Regions from separate parts of the Homo sapiens genome. Here region 2 is linked to region 1. Evidence: fine-mapped expression QTL. A gene starts in region 1. The other region holds a variant in brackets. All regions are shown on one strand. Distances are from middle to middle.

Region 1 (15,575 bases):
GTTTCACCATGTTGGCCAGGCTGGTCTTGAACTCCTGACCTCAGGTGATCTACCCACCTCGGCCTCCCACAGTGCTGGGATTCCAGGTGTGAGCCACCGGGCCCGGCCCACATTCTTAGTAAACCTGCTTTCGCTTCACTCTGCCCGCTCGCTCTTGAATTTCTTCCTGCTCCAAGTGAAGAACCCACAAGGCCTCCCAGGCTGAACTCCAGTTTTGGGGGCCTGCGACGTTGGGACTAGCAGCATCCATGGTGCCTGGGCACCCGCCAGCCATGCACATCCTTCCTGAATCAGACATGGCGGGTGGAGCCTCATCCAGGGCTTCACAGGCCCTCAGCTGGCTTTGATGCTTCCCAAGCCCAGGCTGACAACCTCCTGTTTACAAGTCTCTGTTCCTCCTCAAGAAGCCATATTTCACCTCCACAACCAGCCCCTGCTGAGCACAGCGACAGACTTCCAGCAGCCACACAGTGGATGTAAGACTATGTGACATTTTATGTAGAAAACCAATTAGGCTTTGAGGGAGCAGTATGACAGATCACGAATGGAGTTTGAATAAGTACTAATTAAATCCACAAAAAAACAAACTTAATAATAATGGAAATATCTGCTCCAAGCATCCAAAGCCTTAGTTCTTCTCTCTGTGGGGAAGCTCCATCATCATCCATTTACTCCACAGAGACTAATATTTATCAACCCCAGGGCACCCAGAGCCAGCATTGCTCTCCTGTCTCACTGCAACTTTCCTGCCCGTCTACGCAGTCGATCCTCATTTATCTAGCAGCCTGCGGTCAGCAGCCTGCGGTCACTCCTGCTCTTTCCGGCTGGAATTTCTCAGGAAGTTTCTTTTAGCTGAGCCATCTATAAAGTCGACTCTCATTTATCTAGCAGCCTGCGGTCACTCCTGCGCTTTCCAGCTGGAATTTCTCAGGAAGTTTCTTTTAGCTGAGACATGCTCTGCTTTGTTCTCTGTGCTTAGCACACACACAGCCAGGCATGGCGGAATTCTCCCCTGGCACCCAGAGGGCAGAGGCACACTGATCTCATCACCAGCACTGAGCTCTATTGTTTTGAGGTCCTTTTTATTGGAAAAGGAAGGAGAAAGGGGCTGGGAGGAGAAGAGCACGAGGCACCCCGCTAGGGAGACTCCTGCCCAGCGAGGCACCCGCCCAGTGTGTTAGGGGAGGCTGCTGCACCCCTATCGCCTATGGGAGAGATGCCAGCAGGTGAGACTACATTTCGGAAACCACACCTGCTTACCTATCATCTATGCACAGGAGGCCGGCCCTCTCCTGGAATGGCAGCAGGGAAGGAGCAGAACCAGACAACTCTGCCCAATAAGCATGCATTTCCTGTTTTTGCCTGGAGGGCTGTGGAGACAAGAGCTTTAGGTGCCCAGGGTAGGGGACGAAGGAGCCTTGGGAGCACCAGTTCTGAATACTGGAAGACCCCAGAGAGGACAGTCTATGTGCCAGGATGGGGTGGGTGAGATGTTCCCTGCAGTGGGGAAGACTTAGGGTACTTACAAAGAGAGAAAATTTCCTGTGATTTTGAGATAATGGCAGCTCCATGCTAACTGTGGTCCCCGTCACCCTCATATCCTCAGTAAAGATGGGACCCCTTGTTAAGTGGGGGGCTGAATGATGTGGGCACCGTGCGAACAGGAGAGAAGGATCCAGAGGTAACTGGTGCCAGGGGTGCATCCGACTCCTGGGTCCCGCCACCTCCTGGAAATGTCTGGGGACAGGGGGTGCTGAAGAGGTGGAGCGTTTCATTTGGATATAATAAGGAGGGTGACCTGGAGGCTGGGGACCCAGGAGTGTGGGGAGCACAAGAAAAAAAAGAAAAACCATCGTGCAAAGGAATGTGGGCACATGGGCAGCGTGGGCTTTGCTGGAAGGTAGCTGTGCGAGCGGGCACTCCCCTTGTGCCTGCACCTACTGAGGTGCTCTTTCTAGGTGGCTCTGGAGGCCCACAGAACCTGGGGTGGGCTCCATTGAACAGACAGGGAGACCAAGACACAAAGAGCAGAAGCGCCTGCCAAAGACCACATGGCAGAGCTGGGCCCAGAGCCTCTGTCAGCCCTTCCTGCCTCTGCCCCAGGGCAGCAAGCCCCATGAGCCCTCCTGGCCACTGCCTCGTGAATCCACACATTGCATATTTCAGAGCCTGTGTTCCAGGGAACGCACTGGGTGGGGGCCATGGGGTGCATCAGATGCCTGCTCCAGCAGGGCCCACAGTCCAGGGGGGACGCCCCCACCAGCCAGCATGGCAGGAGCTGTCCAGCCACTCACTAACCCGTCAGTTCCCCATCAGCACATTACCTCGTGGTTACCAGCACCTACGCTGATAAAAATCATCAGATCGAACAGTCCAGGTGGGGAGACGGCTGTGTGTGTGAGCAGGTAAGGCACTCAGTGCCGTGATGGTGAGGAAGGGACGGAGACATCATGACGGGCACGGAGGAAGACCAGCTTTCCCCGCAGGTGGGCCAGTGCATGGGAGCCTTCAAAGGACCTGAGGTTACAGCTGAGTCTTGCACGAGGAGGGCTAAGTGCTGGGCATTTGGGGCAACAGTGAGTCCTGGGCCCCAGCAGTTACTTCCGCAGGAGTGGGGAGGCCGGCTGGGGAGGTGGGAGTTGGGAAGATCTGGAGGGCAAGTGATGAACACTGCACAGAGAACCTGGGATGCTGGGTCCTCGGCTGCCCTAACATGGCAGACACTTCACACATGGAAACGCTGGGCTCAGAGCAAGCAGGCATCCCGGGGAGGGGGCGTGGCCTGGGCTGGAGACCCTGGTTCCATTTCACTCCCCTGCTGCCGTCGTGGGGGCTTACTCAGCCCATCTGTGTCTCATGTTCCTCTTCTGCGTAAACAAAACAGTAATTCATTTTCAAGGTTCATGATTGTTGTGAAGATTGAGACAATGATTTTTATTAATTTATTTTATAATTTTTATAGCTTTAACAAACTTTTAATTTTGAAATGATTGCATACTCACAGGAAGCTACAGACACAGAGTGCTTCCCTGCTGTTCACCAGCTTACTTTATCACAGGTGAACCCCCAAATCGGGGCTCATCCCGGGAGGTCACATGGGTTCTTAGTGTCATGCAGGAAGGAATTCAAGAGTGAGAGGACAGGCTGGGCACAGTGGCTCACGCCTGTAATCCCAGCACTTTGGGAGGCCGAGGCAGGTGGATTGCTTGAGGTCAGGATTTTGAGACCAGCCTGGCCAACATGGTGAAATCCCATCTCTACTAAAAATACAAAGATTAGCTGGACGTGGTGGTGCACATCTGTAATCCCAGCTACTCGGGAGGCTGAGGCAGGAGAATCGCTGGAACCCGGGAGGTGGAGGTTGCAGTGAGCTGAGTTCATGCCACTGCACTCCAGCCTGGTGACAGGGCGAGACTCTGTCTCAAAAAAAAAAAAAGAGCAAGAGGACAGAGTGAAATCAGGTTAATCAAGAAAGTAAAGAAATAAATGGGTGGTTACCGCACAGGAATAAAAGGGTGGCTATTTTTATGGTTATTTCTTGATTATATGCCGAACAACAGGTGGATTATTCATGAGTTTTCTGGGAAAAAGGCAGGGAATTCCCCAAGAACTGAGAATTCCTCCCCACTTCAGACCCCATAGGGTAACTTCCAGACGTTGCCATGGCGTCTGTAAACTGTCTTGGTGCTGCCAGGCACGTCATTGAGCATATGCAAATGCATTATGATTAGTGTATAATGAACAGAGGTTTCTTTTGCCACCATCTTGGTTTTGGCTGGCTTCTCTCCCACATCCTGTTTTATGAGCAGGGTCTTTGTGATGTGTCTCTTGTGAAACCTGCCCTGTGACTTCCTAGCTCACCTTCAGTGACAACATTTCACCCGGCCTACAGGGCATGTGCAAGAAGAATGCGCCACAGCTCAGAGCCTGGGGCCAGACACGCATGAGCTCTGGTGTAACACCTGCCTGAGAATCCTGGTGATGGATGCTCTGCTTGCTGTCTCTGTGTCGCTGCCCAGGGCTGCAGAGCCAGTGCACAGATGCGGCCATTCACTTAATGTGGTCATCCAAGCAGCTTCTATCCACGTGGCTTTAAAAACATTTTTTAAATATATATGTTTTATCTTTGTAAAGACAAGGTCTCACTACGTTGCCCAGGCTGGTCTCAAGCTCCAGGACTCAAGTGATTCTCCCATCTTGGTCTCCCAAAATGCTGAGATGACAGGTGTGAGCCGTCACGCTTGGCCTAAGTGTCTTGCATTTAAGACTGTGTTTCCACCTAACTGTGAGTTTCTCAGGGTCTCTGCCCTTCCTTGTCTGTTTTCATTGCCCGCTCACTTCCCTGGAAGCTGGCTGGGTGCTGTGCTCACGCTGGATTTTCCAGGTCCAGTCTCTGCCCTTCCTTGCCTCACCTGTCCTGGGGAACCAACCTCTAATAGGGAATTGCCCAGTCCCCGTTACCGCCTGGCTTCCTCCTGGGTGACCAGGGGATGGCATCAGCCTCAGTGGCTCCACATGCCCTCCCTGCCCTCCCAGCCATCCACCTGCAGCCATGGCCCCTGGCAGCCCCTCCTGCAGTTATAAATCTAGCTAGGTGAGGCTCACACGTTCCTCCCCCCGCCTTCCATGGCCTCCGAGGGTGGGGGCATGGTGGAGATGCTTGGTTGCTTCCCTAACTGCCTCACCTCTCAGTCGCCCAATTAAACTCCCTCCACTGTAACCCTGAAACCCTCTCGGTGCTTCCCCCTCCTGCAGAGGCCTTGGCTAGCCCCAGCGCGGCTCATGGAAGGCAGGAAGCAGACCCTCTCCCCGAGGGTGGACAGAGGGTCGCCCACCTCCGCACACAGCGTGCCAAGGGCCTGGGCTGGGGAGGCCTCTGTCTACACCCAGGACCCCTGTTGGGGAGGGGGTTATTAGCGGGACCCCTCTCCCAGACATGAGCCTTCCACCCTCTGACTTCATCACCTAGGCATGCAGAAAGCCCCTGTTGGCGCCTATCTGAGAAAAATGTGGAATCTAAGTGTGCGGCTTAATTTACATAAAGATCCCATGGGGGAGGAGCAGTGAAGATGTGACTCTCACAAGGTGAGGACCCTCAGGACCCCTCTTCTCTCCACTCCTGGGCATGTCCCGGGTGCCTGACCCGGTGCTCTGGCGGATGGAGGGACCTTTGGACAGAGAAGTGGTGACTCTCCATGCTTAGCATTTAAATTCTAGAATCTCATCTTTCTGTGGCTGAACTGAACACAGTAAATTGTGTTCTGAGCCTGCAGCTGCCTCTCACCGTGGGTCTGCCAGGAGCCTGGTGCCCTGCCCGGCTGTCCTTTGCTGTGGTTGAGCTGACACTGACCGGGAACTCACTGGGAACATGGCTCTGACCCACTCACCTGAGCCTTGTGACATCCAGCAAGGGGGACAAGCCTTTTCCATACGACCTCGGGCCCCAGCATGAGCACCCAGGAGAAGATCTCAGCGCAGCTCCTGCTGTGAGCTGGTCTTCAGACAGCCGCCGCCATGGTCTTCACGGGCCTGCTGTCCTGGCACCCTGCCTGGCATGCTGTAGCACACAGGGCAGTGTGTGCAGAGAAGGGGGCCCGGGACCAAGTGTCTCTTCACTCACTGCGTCTAAGTACTATGTGTGACAACGAAACAGTGTTCCTTGGCACAACTCACACCTGGAAGGAGTGTTTGCTGTGGGACAGATCACAAGACTGGGGGCGGATAACAGGATTGGAAAGTGGCCATCAGAGGGGGTGAGAGTATTTCACCTGGGCCCGGAGAACATGAAGCTTAAGCTGTTGTGCTCCTGCTCAGACAATTCACCCGCAGACGCCGGGCTGGGGAGGTGCGAGGCTTCTGTGGGCCTCTAGAGGGCAGACGCAGGAAGCCGTGAACAAAACACACGGCTGCACATTCAGCTCCACAGGGGAAGAGCTCACCACCAAAACCTCATTCTTTCAGGCCCAAGTCATTGCACTGACCACCCCCTGCCCAGACTCCCCTGCCAATGCCACACACATGCAAACGAATGCTATGCCACTCGGGGGTCTTCAGGGACACATAGGATGGGGTCCATAGGATGGATCCGTGGATGGGGATGGGGAGAAGGGAGGGAAGGAGGGAAGGGATTGGGGGAAGAAGGAGGAAAGAAGAGAAGGGAGGGAGGGAGGGAGGGGGGGAGGGGGGGGAGGGAGGGAGGGGGGGGAGGGAGGGAGGGAGGGGGGAGGGAGGGAGGGAGGGAGGGAGGGAGGGGGGAGGGAGGGAGGGAGGGAGGGAGGGGGGAGGGAGGGAGGGAGGGAGGGGGGGAGGGAGGGGGGGAGGGAGGGAGGGAGGGAGGGGGGAGGAGAAGAATGAACGAAGGAGGGAAAGAAGGAGGGAGGGATGAATGGATGCAAGGATGAGTACATGTATGAATAGGTGAGTTGATGGGTGGATGGATACATTGATTGATGGATAGATTTTTTAAATCGGCTCAAGTGATTGTGGGGCCAGCAGGTCTGAAATCAGGAGCTGAAGCTGCAGCCTTGAGGCAAAATTTCTCCTTTTCTGGGAAACCTCAGGTTTTGCTCTCAATGCCTCCACCTGCTTAGACAGGGCTCACTCACATCATCAAAGGTCACCTCCTCCACCTAAGGTCAACTGATGATAGAGATTAACCACAACCGCAATACCTTCAGAGCAATGTCTAGATGAGTGTGGCCACGTGGACATATAAAAGCAATCACCACAGGTGACTTGGGAGATGCCTGTTGAACTGGAAAGAAAAGCCACCAATTCGTGATGCCCTGAAATGCTCCTGTGGGTGGCAGCAGGTGGGGAGTGTGGATGTCAGGTACAGGCCGCCGTGTCTGAGCGAGGGTGGACTACACACTAGGGAGCCTCTGGGCCACTGGGTGACACTCTGAGAAGTGTCACTTGAAGGTGGCACCAGCGCACTTGGAAGGCATTGAGTATCTGCAGTCACAGGGCCCCTCCTCACGATGGAATGTCCATACCCAGCACTTCCCCTGGAGTTCTGTTGAGATGCTGAAATGACCTCATAATCATTATTATGATGTTTCTGATGATTTCTAAACTTGAGCAAACTTAAAGCAGAGAATGCAGAGGTCTTTTCCAGATGTTTCTAGTCTTTGTCACCCACCCCAGCGAATGTCAGGGCAAACTCAGAACTGCAAGGCTGCCCAAGAGTCCACCTGATCATCTGGGGCTGGGCAGTAATGCACGCAGTGTAGCACATGGTACACTTGTTTTCACCCAACAATGACTGTTCTAGTCCATCCCCGAGGGCTCTTGGCCTTGACAGGGAGCTAGGCATGGAAACCTTGTCCTGGGGCTGTGTGGGGTGGGCTGTAGCACTAGAAGGATATTCACACTGGGAAGACGGTGGGAACCAGGGCCTGGAGGGGTGCACAGAGGGAGCCACCCAACTGAGCAGATTCTAGAAGGTTCAGTAGCAGTTTGCCAGGAAATAAAGTTGAAATAAGTTGATGTCTGGTGTTTGTGGAGAGAAGGGGCTGGAAGAACAGACGCAAAGCCACCGGAGATGGTGGCCCCAAGCCCACCCCATTAGGCAGGGGGCTGAGAGGTGCTTGCATACAGCGGTGGCAGGGTCCGAGCTGCGGCACATTCTCTGTGAGCTTCATTCTCTGTGATGAGCCAGGCAGACCCAAAGGCACATGCCCAGGAGGGGTCTCAGTGGTGGTCCAGGGGCCAGAGCTCTGCCAACAGCCATGTGGAAGGAACAGTGCTCAGCACAAGGAATTAACAGGATCCTGTGACTGCTGTATTTAAGGATGGGGTAGGGATTGAGGTGAGAATGACCTCCAGGTTGGCGGAGGATTGCATTAGAGATTCTGGAGAAAAAGCGCATTTTTTATGGAGAGCGATGTTCTAGTTTCTGACATCATAACATTGGAATTCTTGTGGGACATCGAGGTGGAGATGTCTGGAAAGCATCTGGAAGTGAGTACGGAGCCCCAGAGCGTGCTGCGGGTAGATGTGTGACTCCTTAGTACCTAGGACACCTGGATGGCTTGGAAAGGGTCCCTAGATGACCAAAAAGGTAATTACGCCTTGTGAGCGGGGTGCTTGCTTAAAACGGCAGACACAGCAGCGGGTGCCACTTTCCTAAACACGAGTATCCATGTAAAGCTTGTGTGTTTGAGAAGGAATTGGGTCTTTTCCTCAGGTTCCCGGGACAGAGCTTCCAAAGCCCTTGGAATTTCCCCAGGGACAGGAGCGTGTGTATTCATGATGAGCTCCCAGCCATGTCTGAGCTGACGCTGATGAAGGAACACAGGATGGAGGCTGATCACTAGGACTGACCATGCGATTGTAGGGTGAAGTGTTTGGGCCTTGTGCTGTCAGCCTGACCTCCCTGGAGAGTTCAACCCCATGGACAGTGTGTCATCAGTCCTGCTTGAGCCATAAAACCCTGGTGAAAACTCTGGACACCAAAGCTCAGTAGAGCTTCCCTGTTGGTGATCATGTCCCTGTGCCGGGTGGTGATGGGCCCTGATCCCACAGGCCAGGCACAGAGGCTCTGCATTTGGGACCCTCCCTGACCTCACCTGATGTATTTCATTTGGAGGTTCAGATTGGTATCAATTATAATACAGCTGTATTTGTAACCACAGCACTTTCATCTGTTGTGTGGGTGGTTCCAGCAGGAGATGGAGCTGGAGGGGGTCTCAGAAACCTATGAATCTGTAACCAGTCAGAAGTGTGGATGGCCTGGGGACCACTGGACACACAGGTAGTATTAAAGTGAGGGCAGCCTTACTGAGGTCCATCCACATCTGTAACCTGCGGGGTCTGCTCTAGCTCCAGGTACTTAACAGCAGGACTGTACTGAAGTCTGCCTAGGACTCTGTCTCCTCCTCTGCTGAATATAATGTTTGCAGCTCCCACCCAGCATTCTGCCATTATGGAAATACAGAAGAAGCATTCTCACAAGCATCCCTGTTCTACACAAACTCAAGAGTGACACGTGGTAGGCAGCCTCTAAGATGGTCCCCAGTGGTTCTGTCTCATGTTCCTTACGCTCCCAGTTGATGCTCTGCTGTGGCATGTGCTGGACGCAAGAGCATCTGTGGATGGAATCCAGCAGGAGAGATGGCGTCCAGTGTGAGCTGGAACAACAGGAGGGTGTGGAGAGGATCCAGGAGGAGTGATGGCATCTGCATCTGGACCCACTGGTGTGTGTGCACAGGATCCTGCGGGGTGATGGCTGAACCCACTGGCGTGTGTGCACAGGATCCTGCGGGGTGATGGCTGAACTCACTGGAGTGTGTGCACAGGATCCTGCAGGGGTGATGGCACCCGGAGTCTAATCTGAACCCACTGGAGTGTGTGCACAGGATCCCGCAGGGGCGATGGCACCCGGAGTCTGAAATGAATCCTCTGGAGTGCGTGGACAGGACCCTGCAGGGGTGATGGCATCGGAATCTGAACTAAACCCACTCGAATGTGTGCGCAGGATCCCGCAGGGGCGATGGCACCCGGAGTCTAATCTGAACCCACTGGAGAGTGTGCGCAGGATCCCGCAGGGGCGATGGCATATGGAGTTTCAGCTGGACCTACTCGAGTGTGTGGATAGAATCTTGCAGGAGAGACGACATGTAGAATGTAAACTGGACTGAGTGGAGTGTATGGAGAGAATCCTGCAGGTGAGATGGCGTGTGCAGTGGGAAGCGGACCCACTGGAATCTTTGGGTGGGACCCAAACTCAACCACTGCTATGTGTAGACAGGATCTTTGAGGAGAGATGGCATCTGCAGTGTGAACCGAACCCACTGGAGTGTATGGATAGCATCTTGCAGGAGTGATGACATCTGCAGTGTGATCTGGACTGCCTCGAGTGTGTGGGTAGGATCCTGCAAGAGTGATGGCATGTGGAGTGAGCACTGCATCCACAGGACTGTGTGGACAGCAGCCTTCAGCAGTGATGATGTCTGCTGTGTGAAGTGGAGCACTGTAGTGTGTGGGTAGGGTCCTGCAGGAGAGATGGCAACTGGAGTGTGAACTGCACCCACTTGAGTGAGAGGTTGGGATGCTGCAGGTGGATGGCATTTGGAGTGTGAACTGGACCCACTTGAGTGTATGGGTAGGGTCCTGCAGGAGAGATGGCAACTGGAGTGTGAACTGGACCCACTGTTGTGCCTGGAGAGGATCCTGCAGAAGACAAGGCATCTGCAGTGTAAACTGGGCCACTGGGGTGTGTAGCTAGAATCATGCTGGAGTAACGGCTTCTGGACTGTGAGCTGGCCCCATTAAAGTGTGTGTATAGGATCCTGCAAAAGTGATAGCCTCTGGAGTGTGAATGGGACCCACTGAGGTGTGTGGATAGGATACTGCAGGGGTGATGGTGTCTGCAGTGTGAGCTGCAGCCCTGGGGCATGTGGATAGGACTCTGCAAAGAGACAGCATCTGTGGTGTGAATGGCACCGGTGGAATGTGTAGAGAGGATCCTGCAAAAGTGATGTCCTCTAGAGTGTGAACTGGACCCACTGGAGGGTGTGGACATCGTCCTGCAGGAGAGATGGCATCTAGAGTGTGAATGGCACCTCCGGAGTGTGTGGATAGGAGCCCGCAGGAGAGAGCACATGTAGAGCGTGAACTGGACCCACTGAAATGTGTGGACAGGATTCTGCAGAAGATACGGCATCCGGAGTGTGAAATGCACCACTAGTGTGTGTGCATAGAATCCTGCATAAGTTTTGGCATCTACAGTGTGAACTGGAGTCACTGGAATGTGTGAATAGGATCTTGCAGGAGAGATGTCTGCAGTGTGAGCTGGACCCACTTCTGTGTGTGGATAGTATCCTGCAGGAGAGATGTTGTCTGCAGTGTGAGCTGGGCCCACCGGAGTGTGTGAATAGGATCCTGCAGGAGAAATGGAATCCGGAGTGTGAGCTGCATCCGCTGTAGAGGGTGGATAAAATCCTGCAGGAAAGATGGCATCTGGAATGTCAGCGGGAGCCACCGACCTCTGAGGATGCACCCCGCAGGTGTGATGCGGGGCCAGTTCCAAGGCTGGGTTAGGTTTTACCCTGGCTTCTGTGTTGTACTCTCATTCTCTTCCTCTTTCTTCTAATACCTGCTCTGGGAGGCATCAGGCCATGTCCAGTGTGCAGGCCATGGAGACCCACACGGCAAGGAACTGGAACCCCCTGCCAGCAGCCTCGGGGGTCCAGTCCTTAGATGGTGCCCTGTGGTCAGCAATGCACCTGTGACCTCCGGGCTATGTCTCGTGGTAGTTGCTTTTGTGTTTTAACATAGCAACAGGAAACTAGCCTATTACCCACCAATCCCATTCCAGGCTGCTTTCAAACGCAGCTCAGGCTAGAACACCAGCACGGGGACACAGCTGAGACTTGGGGTTTGCGACGGGAACACGCCCATGCTGTGCCTCTGAATCTGGCACCGTCACCCTGTGGCCTGGGTTCAGCAACTTGGCCTCACCTTCCTTGTCTGTGAAATTCAGACTGGGTCCTTGTGAGATGATTGGAGAGAATGTATGAACTATGTGAGAACGCCACCTTTGTGCGTATCTCACGCAGTGTCTTCCCTCCTTTCCAAAGTCTTCTGCTGTCTCTAGACACACCCGACGTGGGGGGGGGGGGTTCCCTGGGTCTCCTCCTAGGTCTGTCCCAGGAGGGCACGCACTGAAGGCCGCGAGAATCCCGGGGGCTGCATTGCGCCGCGCCAAGGACTCCACACAGGACCTTTCATTTTCCCAACTGTGCTGAGCCAGGCGGCCGGCAGAGAGCAGGTGGCTGACAGGCCCCGGGGAGCCGGACCGCCTGGGTCTAATCTTCCCGCAGACTCCCTTGCTGTGCGCTTTGGGGCTTGGGCCTCAGTTTCCTCAAAAGGAATGAGGGGCTTTTTTGGAACGTTAAATAATTTCCTACGTGGTTGCGGGTAGGGAGAAGGAGAAAGAGAGGAGCGCGCCTGCGCGCCTGGAATCGTGCCCGGATCAGAGCAAGCGCTCTAAAAGTGTTACAAACATTAAGGCGCCAACTAAAAAACCCGTAGTGAGCGCAGGCAGAAACCACGGGTAAGAGAAGTGGAGAAGCTTCGCGTAGGCCCCAGGGTCCCGAGCCCCGAGTCTCGAGCGCAGAATCAGGGGTGCCAATGCTCTCCTCCGCGCCCCCGAGCGCTCGCCTTGGCCATGCGGGCCGCCCCACCGGGATGAGGGCGCTCAGGCCGGACGCTGGGGCCCCGGGTTCTCGCCCCGCCCCGCCCTCGGGGATTCAGAGGGGCCGGGAGGAGCCTCGCGCATGTGCACAGCTGGCGCCCCCCGCCCCCCGCGCACAGCTGGGACGTGGGCCGCGGCCGGGCGGGCGCAGTCGGGAGCCGGCCGTGGTGGCTCCGTGCGTCCGAGCGTCCGTCCGCGCCGTCGGCCATGGCCAAGCGCTCCAGGGGCCCCGGGCGCCGCTGCCTGTTGGCGCTCGTGCTGTTCTGCGCCTGGGGGACGCTGGCCGTGGTGGCCCAGAAGCCGGGCGCAGGGTGTCCGAGCCGCTGCCTGTGCTTCCGCACCACCGTGCGCTGCATGCATCTGCTGCTGGAGGCCGTGCCCGCCGTGGCGCCGCAGACCTCCATCCTGTGAGTGCCGCGGGGGACGCCGGGGGCGCGGGGTCCGGGGCTTCGTGGAGATCCGGGAGCGCAGGGGTGATCGGAGGTGGGGGGCGCGGAGGGTGGAGGGGGCATCGGGCGCGCGGGGGGCCTGGGGACTTGGGACGCAGAAGGGAACCTCCGAAGGGGGACGTGGGGGGACCTGGGCGCGGGGACCCGCTGGGCCTTTGTTCGCCCTGCGGGAGACGCCGAGGGGCGGAACAGAGCGCTGTGCGCGCGGCCTTCGTAGCCGCCTTTGTTCGGAACTCGGAATCCCCGCAGGACTGGGAAGTTGTTGGAGCCTCCGGGGCTCCCCCCGCTCGCCTCCCGCCGCCCCCTCTCATGCTCCGCCGGCCTCCCGCTTCCCCCTGGTTCGCGGCCCCTCCTCCGCTCACCTTTCCCCCGCTCAGGACCCCTCGGTCCCCCTCCGCTCCCCGAGCGCGGCGCAGCCCCCTCCGTCCTCCCAGCCCCCTCCGCCCCGTTCCTCGTCCTGTTCGCTCCCCTCCTCCGCTCCTCTTCCTCCTCCCCTTCCTCCTCCTCCTCCCCTTCCTCCTCCTCCTCCCCTTCCTCCTCCTCCTCCCTTCCCCTCCTCCTCCCCCCCTTCCTTCTCCTCCCCCAGCCTCCGCCCTCTCCCCCTCCCCCGCCCCTTGGAGCGCAGTGCCCACCCCATCCCCCCGCGCCGGGGAAGCCTCCCCAGAGGAGCCTCAGTTCCCGCAGCCGCGGCGCCCCCGCTCCCAGTGCCCCCGCATCTGCCCGGAGCGTCCTCTCCTGGGGTGTCCTGGGGGCCCCGCGCTTCTCAGGGGCTTTTCCTGCGCCCGGAGCGAGCCGGGCGGCCGGGGTTCCCGAGAGGGGCCGCGCGGTAGTCTCGGGGCAGCCCGGGTCTAGATGGAGCCGGGACTCAGAGCGGGTTTCTGCCTCGGGCATTTCTCTTCTTTCGCTTCTAATCCACGCGAGCGTGTTCGCAGTTGCGCTATACGTTTAACCGGATGCGTTGCGTTGGGGTTGACACCCTGTCCTGCGGGCCGTCCCGCGTCACGGTCTCCACAGCAGGAATCCCCATCCCTCCGCCCCGCGGCTCCAGGTACCGAGATGCCGCCAGAGTTCGCTGCAGGCCTCCTGTGTTCTGAAGCGAGTCGGATTCAACATTTTCGGGATCTGTGAACGCGGGCTGCGTTTCAGGCGCCGACTCTAATTTAGTCCTGTAGCGACTTTTCTGCATGCCAAAAATAGTTTTCACGTTTCTTAGCTGAGCCAGAGGACTTTTTGGCACCAGCAAAGAGTCTGCAAAAGTTGTAAAAAAATTGAGTGAACAATTCAGGAAGTGGGCGGCCAGTGCGCCTACCTCCGAAACAAAGTGCTGGGACAGACCACGGCTCCCAGGGGTCGCCGAGTTTGCAGGCTGCTTCCTGGAGGCCCTGGGGCGGGGCGGGGGCCCGAGTTCCTCTCCTCCTCCGCAGAGAGACCAAGGCTTTCTTTCCAGAGCCCGTGAATGGTCAGCCCAGGCCGGACGACTCGGGGGCATCTCACTCAACAGCAGTGGACTTTTAGAATGGAGCCGGGTGAGGTTTCCCTGGGTCTGGATAATGTAATTCTTGCTGAGCCAGTGGAAAAATGGCACCTCAAAGATTTTTCCCATCTGGTCAGTTTCATAAAGCTTGCGGTATGTTTTGCCCCGGAATATTAATTGCTTGTTGAAAATAACATGTTAAAATAAGTGTCGTAGGACACACATGGGGTCCTCTGCTCCGCTTTGCATGGTGTGCTCGTCCACAAACGCCTCACCGAATTTGAAAAAGGAGCTGAGAGTAGACGGGTGACATCATCGTCCACTCGCACAACACTTCCTCATAGGGTACATTTGCATCCATTTCTATCTTAAACTTTCAGGGGTTTTTGCAGTCTTCAGTGATACTTCGAAATGTCGCTGTTGAGTCACGTTGATTCTGTGAGGCAGGTAGACTGGTAGCTGTTAAGTTGATCGAATCCCTTATAGAACTAAACACTTTACTGGAGAAATGAACATACCCATTTTCTGGCGGTGGAAACAGAAGCTCTGGGAGAGAAGCGCAGCTCCTGACGCTATTCCTGTGGCCAAGAGGAGGAGCGTAGCGCTGGTGGCCAGAATGGAGTCCTGGCTGGATGCATTGCAGCCGCGTGATTTTTAGCAAGTCCCGTGTCTCCTGGGAGAACGTGAGGGTGTAGCTGTGCGGACCTAGGCACAGTGGACAGGTGTCATGAGCGAGCGCTAGTGAGTGCAGCCTGGGGAGGCAGGGACTGAGGGAAGAGGGAGACCTATTCTGCGGGGATATCCTGTTGAGGGGTCTCTGGGGGCATGGTCTGGTAGGCTGTTGCTTGAGATGACACAGTTCTACATGATACATGCTACACGTGAAGCAACATTTCATGTCCACTTTCGGCTTTCTCCCAGGACTGTGCTCTCATGTATATGTGATTATTTTCTATTACAATTTTTTGGTAGAAATTGGGAATATACTATATATGAAAATTTAAAAAAAAACCTGCCCCAAAGTTAGTTGGCTCATCCAACCATCACACCGTCCCTTTGCTTTTAGAGACTCACCTCCATCCCAGTCCCCCAAAAGATTAAATCAGAGCCATTGGAAAACATCTTATTGCTCCTTCCCCTCAAATGCTCCAGGAGTGTGTTTAAGCGGGTCTGATACTGGGTTGTTTGATTTGTGGCTTGGGGGCTTTGGAAAACAGTGGAATAAGCCCATCCATGACTCAGTTTGGATCGACCTTTGAGCTCCCTCAGCTGCAAGTGTGAAGGGAGCTCTGGAATGGCAGGAGCCCGCGCCCTGTGCTGCTCGGTCGGCGGTTTGGCCTTGCTGTTGGGTCTCCTGCAGAGCGCCTCCCCTCTGGAGGCCTTACTTAGTTCAGCTGTGTAGAAATGGTTGGTTTTTGAATACAGAATCATTCTGTACCCAACACAATAGAAG
Region 2 (16,247 bases), 70 kb before region 1:
CCAGGCATGTTTCAATGGCATACCTTGTTTTATAACACAGGAAGAAAGTTCTCCTGAGCTCTGGGTCCCTCTGTGATCTGCAGGAGGTGGAAGGGAGGGTGGCCCCAGCCCAGGAGTAAATGCAGCACAAGGGAGGGAGACAGAGAGCATTTCCATCCAGGGCTGAACCCTGCCGTGCCCCAGCTCCTACGAAGCCCCATGCCCCCATTCTGGGCTGGCAGCCCCTCACTATCAGCCCTTCAGTCATCTGGCCAGGTCACCACCTCAGGGAAAAGAGAGGAAATGTTGCTGCGCTGTGTCCAGGCCGTGATCTCTAGTCCTGGAGGCCAGGCAGGTTGACCCATCCAGAGCCCTGCAGGATGGGGAGGGGTCTGGGGCACCAGCAGGGGTGGGGATTGCTAAAGTGAGATCCTCGCCAGGATGCGCCTCCTCCTGCATCTGCTCTGGAGAAAGCAGGACTCAGTCAGTGAGCCCCACCCCACCCCACCACCTGCTCTCATGAGGAACCTCACTTCTGAGAATTACATTCCCGACCCCCACCCCATGCTCCCCCTGCCCCCACGCCACTCCTGTGGAAAACTGGCCTTACTGAACCACTTTACAAGGAAGCCTTCAGGGACTTGACTTCTCTGACCTTTGGAGTCAGCTCCCTGCTCTGCCTCAGGCCCAGACACCCTCCAAGGGGAGCCCTCCGCTTTCCCCGACGCCGGCCCTGCACTGACCCGGTACCCGGTGCTGCGTCCTAAAAGCACCTCAGACCCTTTGCTTCTTTTCCTTTAATCTCCATCTTTTAGTGTTTGACGGGAAGCAATTGGGAGGGAAAGAGTCAGATTCAACATCTGTCTCGAACTGTGAATCCCAAAGGGCCCTGTGAATAGCAGCAGGGAGAGGTGACATCTGGTCAACCTCCTCTGCCTGAAACAACCCAGTGTTCTGGCCCAGCGCTGACCAGGGTGGAGCGCGACCCTGCTTTGTTTTTGCAGGAAGATTCCCTCCTGAAGCACTCCCACATTCGCCCGCCCCCCAGCCCTCCCCAGGACCTGGCAAGCATTCAGCAGATGCTGAATGAAAGCACTGAGCTTCAGCAGGGCCCTCTGCGCCAGCGCAGGAAGCCGAACTGTGTCCCATGCCCGAGCACCGTGCCGGTCTTCTAGTTTGTTCTCCAAAGTGGCACAAACAAAGCAGCTTAAACCCAGGCCCTGTCATTAGCTCAGTTTTCCCATGGTGGAAGCCCAGGCTGGCCTAAGGGGGTCCTCTGCAGGTGGCGTCCCCCCTGGAGCTCACAGTCCAACTCACAGCTCATGCGGGTTCCTGGCAGAACTCAGCTCCTGAGCTTGCAGCTGTCAGGCCCGACTGTCCTGCTGGACGTTGGGCAGAGTCGTCCTCCGCGGATGAGGCCCCCAGGTCCTGGCCACACAGCCGGTGGCCTCACTGCTTGGCAGCTGGGCTGGGGTCTCATAGGATGTCACCCCATCATGGGGGCAATGACTATACTGTGTTCACAGGACCATCCACACTCAAGGACAGAGGCCCACGCACGGCAGGTGCACACGGGGAGACTTTGGGGCCACCTTAGCATTCTGCCCACTGGAAGGGGACTATCCAGCCACTGCGCTAGGATCTTCAGAGAAATAAAAATTTCAAGACAGTCTCTGTCCCAAGAAACTTAGCCTGTTATAATTTTATAGGGAAAACCAATATACAAACAAAAAATTAACAGTACAAACAAATAGGATCATTCTTATATCCAATAAAGAGATGGGGAACCTGATCTTTTAAAAGCGGGTTCCCATATGTGAATTAATCTCAATTAAACAAACAAAAAACTTTGACGTTCTCATAATTAGTGTGAAGCTAAGACTGTAATTCCAATCTTTTGATTTCTCCAAATAATTTCTAATAAACATAATATTACTTGATTCTTAAGGGAAGAGTAAGTAGGTTTTCAGGAGTATGCCAACTTTTTAATGGAATTATGTTATAACATGTAAATTCTACCAATGTATCTGTTTTCTGTAACTGAACTAATTTCTGTCTCCTCCTCTACTGTATGGTGAGAGCTTGCTCGCCATAACTAGGTCGCTGTGGTGCCTCCCCCCCATCTTCATCCCAGGTGCACCTTTGGGGCAGGTGGCAGCTCCTGGGGGGCCCCTTTCCCTGCCAAAGCACCAGCCTCATGGGCAGCTCCTCCACCTTCCCGGCTCCCAGCCCTGAGGCCTCTCTGTGTCTGTCGCCATCAGGAAGGCAGGGGAGTGGCGTGTCTGAGGTCTCTTTCCCCAGCTCCATGTTGCTCTCAGGGGAAAGGGAGAAAGTCTGGCTCTCAGGCCACTCTCTGAGGACCCACAGGCATCCAAACCCCTTACTCCTCTCCCTCCTGTCCTCTCCCTTCTCTGTCTCCTCCCTGGAGATTCCTCCACCGCTACCTGATGGGGATGCATCCTTCCAAATCTATGGCTGCTGCCAGGAGTTCCTCCTATCTCTGGGATGTGTCATCCACAAAGCGAAGCCTTTGAAACGCAAATGCCTTTTTCTCTGATTTTCGCTTCTAACAGCTGTTCCTTGAAGCACCAAATGCTAGCCAAAATGGTGGTAAAATGCATAAGAAGAACAAATTATGCATCAGCCGGGATACTGCGGAGTCCTCCCCCTCTCTCTCCTCTGGATGACTCAATATGCATCAGCCGGGATACTGCGGAGTCCTCCTCCACTCTCTCCTCTCGACAACTCGCTGCACGGATCCATCCCTGAGTGCTGGTCAGTGCTCCCCAAAGGAGCCGCAGAGGGCGGCGTCCCGGCGCCACCCTCGCATGGCCTGGCCGGGGTGTCACAGGCTGGCCCCTGAGTTCTCACAGGGCCCAGGGCACAAACTTCAGGACGAGAGCAGCTCAAATGCAGAGGCCCATGCCCCTCTCCTCCCTGTGCTCAGCCTTCTCTGGGATCCGAGCTCTCCGTCCAGGCTGGCGCTGACGTCAGACATGTTCTGGCCTCTATCCTGCCAGCCTTCTCAGCACTCTGGGTTGGAGGGAACATTCCAGGAAGGCAGTATTTCCCAGAGGACAGAGCACCGCCCTGCTCTGCTGGGCACAAAATTACCTAACCCTAGAGAGACGTGGAGAAAATACCAAACTGAATCTACATTACAGATTGTTGGAAGAATTGGTTGGGGTCATGTATCTAAAATGCTTAATGCAGGCTCCTAAGCATAGGAATATGTTTAGTAAGTCTAGTCTGCTTTATTAGCTATTATTTAAATTTGTTCCATAGCAAGAATCACTCTCTGTTTAGAATCCAAACTAAAAACGTTCCCCAACCCCCATGGAGAGGGCTTGGCACGTTCCCTAAAAAGTCACTGAGCATCCCACATCACCTCTGCCCGGCGGCCCCGCTGGGGGGGGAGGCGCGGCCTCATCCCATGGGTCGTGCCAGGGACGGCGAGGCCCAGGCCAACACTGTGCCACGTAATGGTCACTGGACACCTGAGACTACTCAGCTCTTGAAGTTTGGCTCCTGTGACAGAGAACTTTTAAAAATTGTTAGATTTCAGTAAATATAAATGTAAATTTGACCACACGGGACGAGGGCCGCCACCACTGGCAGTGCAGGGCTGAACACGCCTCCAGCCACGGATCTTCCTACAGGGACCCAGCCTCATCGCTGCTCGTGCCAGGAGCCTGACCCACCTGCAGGGCTGAACATGCGGCCAGCCACGGGTCTTCCTACAGGCACTCAGCCTCATCGCTGCTCCTCCCAGGAGCACGACCCACCTGCAGGGCTGAACATGCAGCCAGCTGAGGGTCTTCCTGCAGGCACCCAGCCTCGTCACTGCTTCTCCCAGGAGCCTGACCCAAGCCCCGCCTGCAGCCTTCGCTTCCGTCCTGGGGGAGCTGCTCAGAGGCTGCCCTCCAGCGTCAACCACACCCACTCCAGCCCACTGCCTGCTCCCTCCTCCAGGACCCCGGAGCCGAAGCCCTGAGCCAGATAGGGTGGACCTGAGTGCCCCAAGTGGAGAGAAGGCTACAACTACAGCTGCCACAGCTATATCTATGACAATGAAGGTTGCAGCCACAACCACAGCAACAACAGCCTCACAGCCACAGCTCTGACAACAGCAGCAACAGCCCTCACTACCACAACCACCACGACTATAACAGCCAGCACCACCAGCTGGGTGCCCCTGCTGGGTCTGCCTGGGGAGGCCAAGCTGCCACAGGGCTGTGCAGCAGGACAGGTGTCTCCTCATTGAGGATCTTTTCCTCCCACGTGTCGATGCCATTTGAGGAGCTTAGGGCAAAAGCTCACATTTGCAGAAGAGTTATGGTTCACATGTTAAAAAGAAAACGAGGTGCAATAAGGTCCCTTTCACAGGTGTAGGGGCCAGGCCATCAACATATCCCTTCAGGAGACACAGCCAAGCCACAGCAGTGATAACGTTAACAACCGAGGCTCCTGAGAGGCAAGCAAAAGGAGAAACAAAACTAAACATTTCCCTTCTGCTAGGATTACACTCAGTCCTCAGCAGCAAGCAGCTGCTCCTGAGAAAGAGAAACCCTCCAGGAGAGGAGGGTTTCACTGTGGACACAGCAGCCCTGGTGAGGCAGTGGCTCCTTCACAGGAGAGGAGGGTTTCACCGTGGACACAGCAGCAGCCATGAGGCGGTGGCTTCTGACTGCCAGGGACCCAGATATCCGGGTCCTGCACCTCAGCCCCTGACACTCGGAGACCACCTCAGGGTGAGTTTGCTACCACAACAGCCATCCTGTCCCTGGAGGAAGGAAGGGGACCCTCTCGAAGGACACAGGCTGTAGGCCACACTTCTGCCTCCACCCTCAGATCCATGTGGTCCCAGGGCCAGCCCTCGCCATCCTGTGGCAGCCAAGTGCCTGCTGAGCACGCAGGAGCATCCCTGGGGAAGAGGGGCTGACAGTGGACACACCCTGCGCTCTCCAGGAAACAGACCCAACCCACACAAAGATGGCAGACACCTTGCAGAAAGGTGCACGTGTGTTCCTCAATACTGGGTTTATTAGGCATCTCTATTGGGAATCCTAGCCAAGCTCTGCAGACTGAAATCACATATATCTCCACTAAATCTTAAAACACTACTAAAATGACCCACTCTCCTCTTATAAACCCACAAATATAATGCAACTAAATAACTAAATAAGGAAGGGAAGTGCAGACCATCCCATCCACAAAGCACTGGGAGCCGCCCAGCCCAAGCACACATGGCTCAGGCCTCAGCTCCCTGCAGAGGAGCTGTTGGGGAGGGAGAGGATGGGGGTGGAGAGAAAGAGTGAAGAAAGAACCCAGAAAAAGAGGAGTGAAGAGCATGCAGAACCTCCATAGAAAAGAGGCTGGGACCTAGAGTGGGGATTCAGAGTTGGTCGGAAAACAGAGGAGTAGTTGAATTGTCTAAGAGGGGTTCGACTCCCGGATGCCCTGCCACAGGCCTCCTTCTCCCCGGCAGAAGGATAAGCTAGAACAGAAGCTCTGGAGCTAGTGCTAGGAAGAGCTGGAAACAGGATGAGCCGTTGTACTGAAGATGGGAACGTCAAGTGAGATGGACAGGCCCCAAGGCCTTGGTCCCGTGTGGCTCCGGGAATCCAGCGGCTCCTCCTGCTCCTCTGCCTTCTCCACTCCCCGCCACTCCAGACAGAGCAGGGGCCTCTTCTCTAGAACCAACAGATTCAAGATAAAGGGCCTCCAGGCACCAATGTCTGGGATGTATGCGTGAACAGCCAAGGACTCCGGCCACTGAAGGCAAGCAGTAAACAACATGGCAGAAACCAAGCAAACAAACCAGCCTTACCAGGGGGCAAAAGAAGCTCAGAGGAAGCAGAAACATTTCTGGAAAGAGGAGCAATCTTTTTAAAAACCTATAATTTGTCATCAGACAGAAAAGAACAGAAAGAACATTAAAATATATTGTATTCATAACCCAAGAAACATTCAGAGAACACGAATATCTATTTTAAAAAATAAATAAAAAGTTTACTTTGAAAGTTAAAATGTAAAATTGAGGTAATGTCCCATAAATTATAAAGAGATGAGAAAAGAAGATAAAAGATTTTGTTAAAAAAAAATAAAGAATTCAGGAGAGTTAGTAATCAACTAATAGGAGTTTCTGAAGAAGTAGCGAGAGTAGAGCAAATGGAAGAAAGAAAATTCCCAAAGAAAGAAAACAAGGAAAATCCCCATGGCAGAGATCTTGAGTTTTCAGATATAAAGGCCTCGTTGAGTAGCCACGCAATCATGAAATGGTTCTATGTCGTCCGGGGCTCTACCTGAGAAGCAGGACCAGTAGGATTTATATATGGACGGGTTCATCACAAGGAACTGGCTGACACCATCTGGGACCGGCTCCACAAGTCCAAAATCTGTAGGGCAGACAGGCAGCCTAGAAACTCTTGTTCAGGAGAAGTTCCATTCCACAGGGAGAATTTCTTCTTCCTCGGGGAAACCTTAGTTATATTCTTAAGGTCTTTTGACTGCTTGAGTCCGGCCCACTGAGAGTATTGAGAATAATCTCCTTACTTAAAGTCAGCTAGGCCAAGTGTGGTGGCTCACACCTGTAATCCCAGTATTTAGGGAGGAGGACGCAGGAGGATCACTTGAGCCCAAGAGTTTAAGACCAACCTGGGCAACATGGCAAGACATCATCTCTACAAAAAATTTAAAAATTAACCAGGCATGGTGGTACATGGCTGTGGTCATAGCTATTTGGGAGGCTGAGGAGTGAGAATTGCTTGAGCCCAAGAGTTGGAGGCTGCAGTGAGTATGATCATGCCACTGAACTCCAGCCTAGGTAACAACAGCAAAACCCTGTCTCAACAACAACAACAACAACAACAAAAAGCCAACTGATGGTAGATGTTAGTCACTCTACAAAATACCTTCGCAGCAACACTTAGATAAGTATTTGATTAAACAACTGGATGCTGTGTCCTCTCCATGTTGACATATAAAACTGTCATAGCCAACCACACAGAGGTTCATCATCATGAAATTTTGAGAACCTGGAGTGGGGATACAGAGAAAGAGAGGGACAAACAGAGACAAAGTGAGAGACAAAAGAAAAGGAAGCTAAGAGATGTACTCAACAGCAATGCTGGAAACAAGAATCAAATAGAACAATGCCTTCAAAACTCTTAGGAAAATGATTGCACACTCAGTATTCTATACTCAACCAAACTATCAATTTGGAATGCAAAAGCAGCAAGCCCCATCCAATGGGTGACCAAGCCCCAGCCCTTCTTACTCCTCTTGAGTGGGTGCTCTCTTCTGAACCCATTGCTGCCTCAGGCTGTACTCCCTCATTCCTCCCCCAGGCCCCTCTGCCAGCTTCCTCGCTGGCCCCCCCCCACTGCCCTCTGCCCTCTGCAAGCATCCTCCAGGCTGCTGCCAGTGAGCTCTCTACCAAGCAAACTCTACTGTGTGGTTGCCAGGATTACATGCTTCCAATCCTTTGTCATTGCCTAGAAGCTAAATCCATTCTCCTCTGTAAGGCACTTGAGATCTTCCCTAATAAGCTCTTACCCATCCCTCCAGCTCCCTGCCTCTCTGCCCCTTGGTTGCACCCAGACCTAAATTCAAAGCTGAAGACATGCTGCTCAGGCTTCTTTGGCCCTTCCACTGCTCCTTGTCCTCTTCAAACAAATGTCTGTCTTTAAATACCCATGCGGACTCCACCTCCCTCTGTAATGCTGCAGAGCATCACATCATCGGACCATGTGCATCCCTGTAGGGCATGTGTATTCACAGGGGCCTCTGCCCGAACTGCACTGGCAGGGCCCGAGTGTAGCATCTGTCACTCACGGGTGCATGGAGAGAGGCTGCAGGAGGAGGAGTGGAGGGTGAGGCTGGTGCTGGATGGCCTGGGTATAAACTCAGCCCTGCCTTTTCTGACTGTATGGTCTGGGGCAAGTTAGCTGTTCTGCGTCTCGATTCTCTCCTCTGTAAAATGGGATGGTCATAGATTGTTTGAGCAGTGGGCCAAGTCTGAAGAGCATGCCAGCATGTGATAAGTAAAGCATTTACAGCAGCTCACCACTGCTGTTAGCATTGTCATGACCCTCCTGTTAGGACTGTGCTTGAGGACAGGAGGTAAGTGTTGCTGATGAGTGAATAGAGATAGGACGTTTGATGACCTATGGAAGTGGCTCTTCAAAACGTCTCTTCTCAGGCCTTCTTCTCCTAACAGTGTTTTGATTGTCACTGCCGAATAGCAGTGGCTCCAGAATCCATCCCTTGGGCAGGAGGCAGGTGGACTCCCTGGGCTGCAGGAATGAGCTGTGTGGGTAGCTGCCATCCCTCAGGCTTTGAGAGGGACCTTTGTTTCCTGAGGCAGGTGGACATGCACCCCAGTGGGAGGGACCTGGTCTGGGAGCTGGGAGCTGGGGGCCATCTGGGTGGTCACACGGCCACCCACAGCTGCACTTTCTGCACCACCTGCCTGTGTGGCTGTGGCCGAGGCGTCCACCTGCCACAGAGGTCACTGTTCTAGAAACGCTTCCCTCTCTCCATGGTTTGAGAGCACCCTGTTTGGCACAGAATATTTTTAGGGGAAAAACCTCCAAATTCTGGATCTTGGCTTGAGAAGGGACCACGATGCCATTGCTTCCCACTGAGATGGAAGCAGATCTGATACACAGTCAGAGGCAGAAATGTCACGTGGCTCCAAGAACACCCTCCTGCCCTTCCTCACATATGCTGGGGCCAGAGTCCGGGAAGCGAACCACAGGAGAGCTGCTCTCGTGGCGACCGGGGCAAATGCAGGACAGGCTGTGGCTGCTGCACCAAATCCCTGTTTGCTTATTGAGGAGATGCTCCGTCATCATGAGTCAATCAGTGACAAGAATAGGATTAAAATACACAGTAACAGTGTACACCTGGAGTGTATTGTGTCTCATATAAATTACATATTATATAGTTAGAGTATTAAAATAGTAGCAGTGGAATAGGGAATAGTAAAATAAATAAAATGTTATTAGAGTGAAACTCACTGTGAAGGAAACTGTTTGCCCCTGGCTGTGTGGAGCTGATGTTCAGAGGATACTGAATCGCAGACAGCACCTGGCTGGGCTCTTCCCACCCGCAGCTCTTTGTCGTGAGTTCTCATCCTAGCACCTTCCAGCTGCAACAAAGCTTCTACACACACTCCCACCTCCTCTCAAATTACTTATTTTTCTTCCCAATCTGTGTGTCTTGTTAACCATATCCCCCTTCGAAAGTTTCACTTATTTAGTTATTTCCAACTGTAATGTTCTCCAGGAAAAGGCCCTTCTAGCTGATGTCCTGATAAAAAATGTCAGGGCCTCCCGGAGCTCGGTTTGAAGCCCTTCTAAAGCTTTCGCTGGAACCTTCATCTGGAATCCCTGGTGCTGACGCCTGGTGCCAGACGTCTGGGGCCTGGGGCAAGCGGGTGGAGCAGCCGCCTAACTACTTGCTGCCCGGAACCTCCCCGCACTGAAACTTGGTGACTTCCAAACCTACACTCAGCAGCACTTGACTTTAATTGGAGAAGCGTTTCTGTAACAGGCCGCTGGGTCTCAGGTTCAGAACTAACGTGTGAGTAAAATAGTAAGCACCCTCTTTATAATTTACACCCGGGACCAGCCGTGGGCTGACCTCCTTGGCTGAGCCAGGTGTGTGGACTTTCCCGAGAGCCCGGGACCAGCACCGCCCCCAGGCCACCGCTAGATGGCACTGTCACCGCACCAGGGCCGCCACCACCCCCCAGGGCCGCGCTGGGCCTGCTCCCAGGGTTCTCTTCCAAATTGGACCTGAGCTGGCAGTGCAGTCACCGGATTGGAATTGGCAGCACCGACACAGCCGCGTTTGGACAGAATGCATCATTCTTCAGGCCCGTCTT[T/C]GTTTCCTAATTTAGTTTCCCAAACTCTTGCTGAAGGCTCCTGCTCCTTAAATAACACCATTATTTGTCATTCCCAGCAGGCAGTTTTATTAACTGAGAGTGAAGAGAAGCAGCGTGAGACTGTGGGCAAAGCCGGTGCTGAACCGCAGTGTGGGTCCAGGAATGTGGACTCTGCAGTTTCCGGCCGTGTGGCGCCCCTATCCCCCCACCCATGGGGGACTTGCCTCCCTGCACCGGTGGCCTCTGCTTCCTGGAGCCGTCGGTCCTCTGGGTGGTTCTCTCCCATGCACTTAATTAACCGCACATAACTTAGTTCTGTTCCTTTATTTTCAAGGTAGGAGAAGCCAGGATGGGGAGATCCCTAATAGATATGACTAAATACACTTAATAAGGAACTTTGTAATCAAGTCATGAGAAAATGGGCCTTTTTGACATAAGAGTGGACAAGTACCCCAGTGCCCACCTCCCAGCAGGAGCCACCTTCTGACCACACTGCATGATTTCAGGAGCTGAGGCACCCATGGGGAGCTGAGGACAAGGTGGCCGTGTGCAGCCCCTCTGGAGCACGGCGTCTGCAGGGACCCCTGGGTGCTGCCGACAACAGGGGTCCACCCTGGGACGGAACCAACTGGCAGGACCCCGGGGTCCTCTCGTCTACCTCTCACCCTACAATGCAGGCCCCAGGCCCCCAGCCGGGCAGTGAGGCCCTGTGCATACACTGGGGCATAGGAACGGGACAGGGCCACCCCCTGGGGGGCCACAGCTGTCACTGTGCGCTCACTCAGTGGCCTTGAAAGAAGCGCCTGAAGCGAGAGAACATGGGTGACGGGGTTTCCCTGAAGTCAAGTCAAAGCAGCCAACGTGCACCATGTCCATCCTCATTTTATGCGCCTTCGTCTTGGCGTAGCCTCAGCAGCTGCTTTTGGCTGTGGCTTTTAAGCTGTGAAAGTATTTGCTGGGAATGTCCTTGGCTCCTCACGCAGCACCTCCTCCCCGTTAGGCTGGTTTCTCTGCTGGATCTAAAACAGGAGGGAGGAAGCATCGTGAGTGGCGTGGGGGGGCTTGAGCGGCTCCTCCCTCTCTCCTCTGGGGGTGCCCACCGGGGCCCAAAGCTTCTGGGAACCCGGCGGAGAGCTCTGCTCCTGAGCCAGGAATTGCCAGGCACCACACAACTGCTATCCGCGGGGCCTGTCCGGTTTCCCCAAGTGCTTCTGCTTCATTCGCTAATCCATACAGCGTAGCTCAGAATGATCGCTTGCCTTGGGTCCCCAAACACTACCTGAGCTGGAAAGTGCTTGTGTGATGTGTTAGTAATGGATAATACAAAATTTTTAACATGGGACTTTAAGCCATCAAAATTTCTGTTTTATTTCTTAACAACAACAACAAAAAGGCTGAATGTGGTGGTTCATACCTGTAATCCTAGCACTTTGGGAGGCTGAGGCAGGAGGGTCGCTTGAGATCAGGAGTTCGAGACCAGCCTGGGCAACATGGTGAGACCTAGTTTCTATTAAAATATTTTTAAAAGAAAAAAAAGAGATAACTGTGCCATGGGGCGTTCCATTGGTGATGAAGCGTGCTGATGCACAGGGAGCCACGGAGTTTCTCGGGGCGGTGCCGTGTGCCTCTCACCTGGATGCCTGGAGCCACTCCCCAGTCTAAGGGTTTGAATGCAGGAAAAGCCATCTATGGCTAAGAAGAGACAAAAAATAATTCTAAACTAGAAAAGATAAACTACAGGACAAAGGAGAGATGGGCCAGGCAGCCCTGGGACACTGGCCTGACCGACTGTCTGGTGCGGAGAGGCCGGGAGTTCTGGGGGCAGGGCATGGGGAAGGGGTGGCTGTTAGGATTCCATGGAGGTGTACCCAGGGGGGTGCTCCCCCACACTCTTCCCTCCTCAGAATCAGAGTGGGAAAGCAGCTCGGCCTCTCGGCCCCTCTTGCTTCCTGACAACTGAGAGGCAGGACACTGTCCTTCCTATTTTATTCACGCAACAGACATCCCTCTAGGGCCCGTGGTTTCCCAGGCAGGAACCGTGATTCTGAGTGGAGAGGGTGGAAAGGACACGGGGATGACCCTGCTGGGGTAGAGCTGACAGCATCATGAGGCAAGAGCCACTGAAGAAGCAAATGCACCCCCTCATGACGAGTGGGAGCAGGGAGGGACCCCAGCGACAGAGAGGATGGGGAAGGGGCCTGTTGATGCTGCTCAGCGAAGGTGGCAGAGACATCCGCACCAACACAGCCAGGCTCTGGGAGCTGCGTCACCAAGCCCAGCCGCAGAGGGGCCTCACCTCGGGCTCTCAACCATGTGCCCCAGAGAGCCAGGCCTGTGGCGGCCGGAGCTCACTGAGCTGATTCCACAGGACGGAACCTCACCTGTTCTCCCAGGCCTGGCTATCCTGACATCTGCCTTTCATGGTTCTGGTTTAATATCCTTTCTCTATATTCAACCTTCAAAATATCCCTATGAGGTGGGAAATTTTGTTTGCTTTTAAATTCCCATTTTACAAATGAAACACCCGAGCTTAGAAAGGTCACTAGAATAAGTCAGCAGCAGAAGCAGGACTTAGCAGAGAAAGTCTGACTTCCAAGCCTGTACTTCACTTCTCCCTGGAGCTCCTAGGTTGTAGGTAACAAGAATCCCCAAGAAGCAAGCCTGGAGCAGAGCCAGGGAAACGAGGTTCCACTCTCCACCCCACCACTAAGGAGCTGTTCGTTCATGGGTGAATGCTCTCCGCCAGGCCTGCACCTACCATTCTGCAAGCATTTAGTGCACTGTGGGAAAAAGAAAGTGAGACCTGCCCTAAAGAACTTAACTGAGCAGATCTTTAAAAATTCTGCGGCAAGACCCATAAAAGAGAAAGAGGCTGGGGAGCTCCGCACCCCCAGTGAGGTGGAGGCTGGGGGCAGTTTCTGCAAAAGCCGAATCCTAAAGGAAAAATCACTGACATGATGTCAGTCTGTTTCCATTTTCTATGCTGTGCATTTTTACTAAACATGTCCCATCTGCAAAGGCTCCTGGACACCGGGATACACATAGCAATGTGGTGGGCATTCCGAGGAACCACCCTCAGACCAGCAGAAGAGGAAAAGATAACCAAGGATGGGAACCGCCCATGTCCACGTCCCGGGAGGCTGCGCTCCAGGGCGCAGGGGATTCGAGGAAGGCAGCGCTGTGGTGGGCCAGAGCCTGGGCCTGGAGGGCCTCCTGGTGCAGGCCGGGCCCTGCTTTGTGGACAAAACAGTAAAGAGTTGGGAGGTCAGTTGGATGGGGACAGGGCGGGACAGCAAACTCAAGTGGGAGTGCCAGGGGCGTTCACCTAGCGGCAGAGAAGATCGCTGGCCTGGGGAATTCGTGAGTGGACAGCGGGAGGCAGCACGTGTGAGAAGAGCCCGTCGCAAAGGCCATCTAGGACAGCGGCCCCCAACCTTTTGGCACAAGGGACCGGTTTCATGGAAGCTAATTTTTCTTTCTTTTTTTTTTTTTTTTGGGGACGGAGTCTCGCTCTGTCGCCCAGGCTGGAGTGCAGTGGCGCGATCTCGGCTCACTGCAAGCTCCGCCTCCCGGGTTCGCGCCATTCTCCTGCCTCAGCCTCCCGAGTAGCTGGGACTACAGGCGCCCGCTACCACGCCCGGCTAATTTTTTGTATTTCTAGTACAGACGGGGTTTCACCGTGTTAGCCAGGATGGTCTCGATCTCCTGACCGCGTGATCCGCCCGCCTCGGCCTCCCAAAGTGCTGGGATTACAGGCGTGAGCCACCGCGCCCGGCCGGAAGCTAATTTTTCTACAGAAAAGGGGTGGGATGGTTTCTGGATGAAACCGTTCCACCTGGGATCACCAGGATTAACTTCTAAGGAGCCCGCAGCCCGGACCCCCTCGCAGGCGCAGTTCTCAGTAGCGTTTGCGCTCCTGGGAGAATCGAATCCCGCCGCTGACGTGTCGGGAGGCGGAGCTCAGGTGAGAATGCTCGCCCGCCCACTGCCCACCTCCACCTGTACGGCCCGGTTCCTCACAGGCCACGGCCGGGAGTTTGGGGACCCCTGCTCTAGGAAATATTCCAGCATCGGCAGCTGCTCTCAGAGAAGCTGCTGGAAGCTCTCCTGGGGGAGTGGGGGCAATCACAGCTGTGCCCCTGGGGCCATTTCTCAGCTGTGGGATGGAACGGATGGGACCCAGGCTGAGGCCCAGGGGCCTCGCTGAGGGAGAAAGAAGCACAGACCTGGACTGAAGTGATGAAGAGAAGGGAGGGGGTTCAGGCGCAAACAGCAGAGGCTGCTCGCTGGGAGGACGGCAAGGAGGAGGAGGCGTGCCTTTGTGGCCCTCCCTCTCTCCCCCCCACCTGCAGCTCCTGGCCCCTCAATGCCATTCGCAAACACAGGGAAAGTCGAAAGGGCTGCGGAGGTTCAGACGGCGGAAGGCCAGAGAGGTTCAGCGGGGGAAAGATGGGAGCTGCTCCCTGCATTTGTGAGGATCATACTGAGCCGGGCTGGGCCACACGCACCGTGGACCGACCAGGCGTCACCCTTGTCCTACAGTCACAGTCTTAGGACCTCTGCAGGAGGCCCTCACCCCAGCCCTCCTCTCATCTTAACCCAGGGCGGCAGCTGCATTCAAGAGTCTTTTTTTTTTTTTTTTTTTTTGAGACGGAGTCCTGCTCTGTCACCCAGGCTGGAGTGCAGCAGTGCGATCTCGGCTCACTGCAACCTCTGCCTCCCGGGTTCAAGAGATTCTCCTGCCTCAGCCTCCCAAGTAGCTGGGATTATAGGCACCTGCCACCACGCCCAGCTAATTTTTGTATTTTTAGTAGAGACAGGGTTTCACCATGTTGGCCAGGCTGGTCTGGAACTCCTGACCTCATGATCTGTCCGCCTCGGCCTCACAAAGTGCTAGGATTACAGGCATGAACCACCGCGCCCGGCTAAGAGTCTTCTCTTAACTTGGAAGTCCTGCAAAATCCTGCCGCAGGCCTCTTTGAGGGCTCAGTCTGCACCTTCCAGAGCCTGGGTGCACTCACACTCACCCTGGGCCTCCACTCACTGAGCCATCACAAAGTGCATTCAGACATTTTATGCTTTCAGAAGTCGTCACTGGGCACCTATTCCATCTCCAGCACTCTCCCATCATGGGGATACAGAGCAGTGAACAAAAAAGTGCATTTTAATCCTTGCCCTCAAGAATACACATTCTTTTCATTAAACTTCACAAACACAGTCAATTCAATATTTTATTCTCATTTCATAAGTGAGCAAACAGGACTGCCTAAGTCTTTCCTAGCCAGTTCCACGTCTTATGTGCGTTAGAGCATCAGGGGGTGCGGTGTGAGGTCCAGTGGGCCTCCTGGTCTCACAAAGGACTTGCCAGATGTAGTCACCTGACTGCAGAGTCTACCTGGATGCGGGGGCCAAAGCGCAGACACACCTGCAGGAAGATGTGTGTGACAGCCACAGTGTGTCCAGTGGCAGGAAGGGGAAAAGTGGCGTTAACATCCAAGCATCCTATTTTAGGAGAGCCTTAACAGATCTTTTGAGAACTTCTTATTTTACAAATGAAAATATCCAGCTCGCCTTCAGAAGCAGATTTACGGATAAGCTAGGGAAGCAGAAGTGTCAGCCCCCACCCCAGCCGGATTTGCAGGGCGTCCTGCTGGGATCTGATGGGGAGGCAGGAGAAGACCCAGGAGGGTGCCCCGGAGTGGGGACGACTGCCAGGTTGTTGCCCAGGCCCCATCAGGGAGGACTGAAGAGGAGCCTGTTCCCTCCGGAACGCGAGGGGTTCGTTCACGCCCCACACTAAAGACAGCTTGAGTAGCACAGGGATTTCCGGTGTAAACAGCAGCAGGCAGGGTGAGAGGATCCATCAGAAGCAGCAGTGCCAATGTCTAGTAACAAATAAATGAACAAAAAAACAGCAAAGGGAACCACGAGCCAGGACCCCCTCAGGGACTGTCCGGATTCCTGGGGATGCAGTCAGGGCAAGCAGGAGAAGCCAGGGCGCCCACCGTGCCCACCCTGTCAGGCCACCCAGTTCCCAGAGGCCTCTCTGCTCCTGGGGCTTCCCGTGCGGCTTGCCCTGGGATGGGATAGGACGCGGGAGCTGATGATGCTGGAGCTGATGACGCCAGAGCTGATGACGCCAGAGCTGATGATGCTGGAGCTGATGACGCTGGGGTTAAAGTCCCCGCTGCTCCTTCTCCCACTGAACCTAGGAACATCATCAGCAAACACAGCAGTTCACAGCCACAGAGTTGTGGTATGAGCAACAAATACTGGTGATTGTCTTAGACGTTCCAGGGCTGCAAAAACAAATACCATACCTTGGGCAGCATAGAAACCAGAAATTTATTCCTCCAAGTTCTGGAGACTGGAAGTC

Direction of the effects. Alleles are on the strand shown, and positions count from the first base shown. SD is a standard deviation of normalised expression in the study named.
For the expression in caudate of the gene that starts at base 12,347 in region 1, allele C in region 2 goes with a lower level than allele T (moderate effect, 0.58 SD a copy in GTEx).

Evidence for each region.
Region 2: its variant is fine-mapped to the expression of PXDN in caudate (GTEx, PIP above 0.99). The same link has a PIP of 0.9 or more in nucleus accumbens.

What each region holds. Positions count from the first base shown.
Region 1 is chr2:1,741,287-1,756,861 of GRCh38, reverse strand. PXDN (peroxidasin) reads left to right here and starts at 12,347. Exons shown (of 23, transcript NM_012293.3): 1 at 12,347-12,606. The coding sequence starts at 12,407. It overlaps LOC124907724 (a long non-coding RNA gene), which reads right to left and starts at 6,135. Exons shown (of 2, transcript XR_007086189.1): 1 at 5,388-6,135; 2 at 2,908-4,090. RefSeq lists an enhancer at 5,082-5,582.
Region 2 is chr2:1,811,147-1,827,393 of GRCh38, reverse strand. All of the region lies in intron 21 of MYT1L (myelin transcription factor 1 like), which reads left to right. It overlaps LOC124905967 (a long non-coding RNA gene), which reads right to left and starts at 3,849. Exons shown (of 4, transcript XR_007086192.1): 1 at 3,765-3,849; 2 at 2,424-3,099. RefSeq lists enhancers at 744-1,301, 10,148-11,060. The variant T/C (reference allele first, on the strand shown) is at 9,872.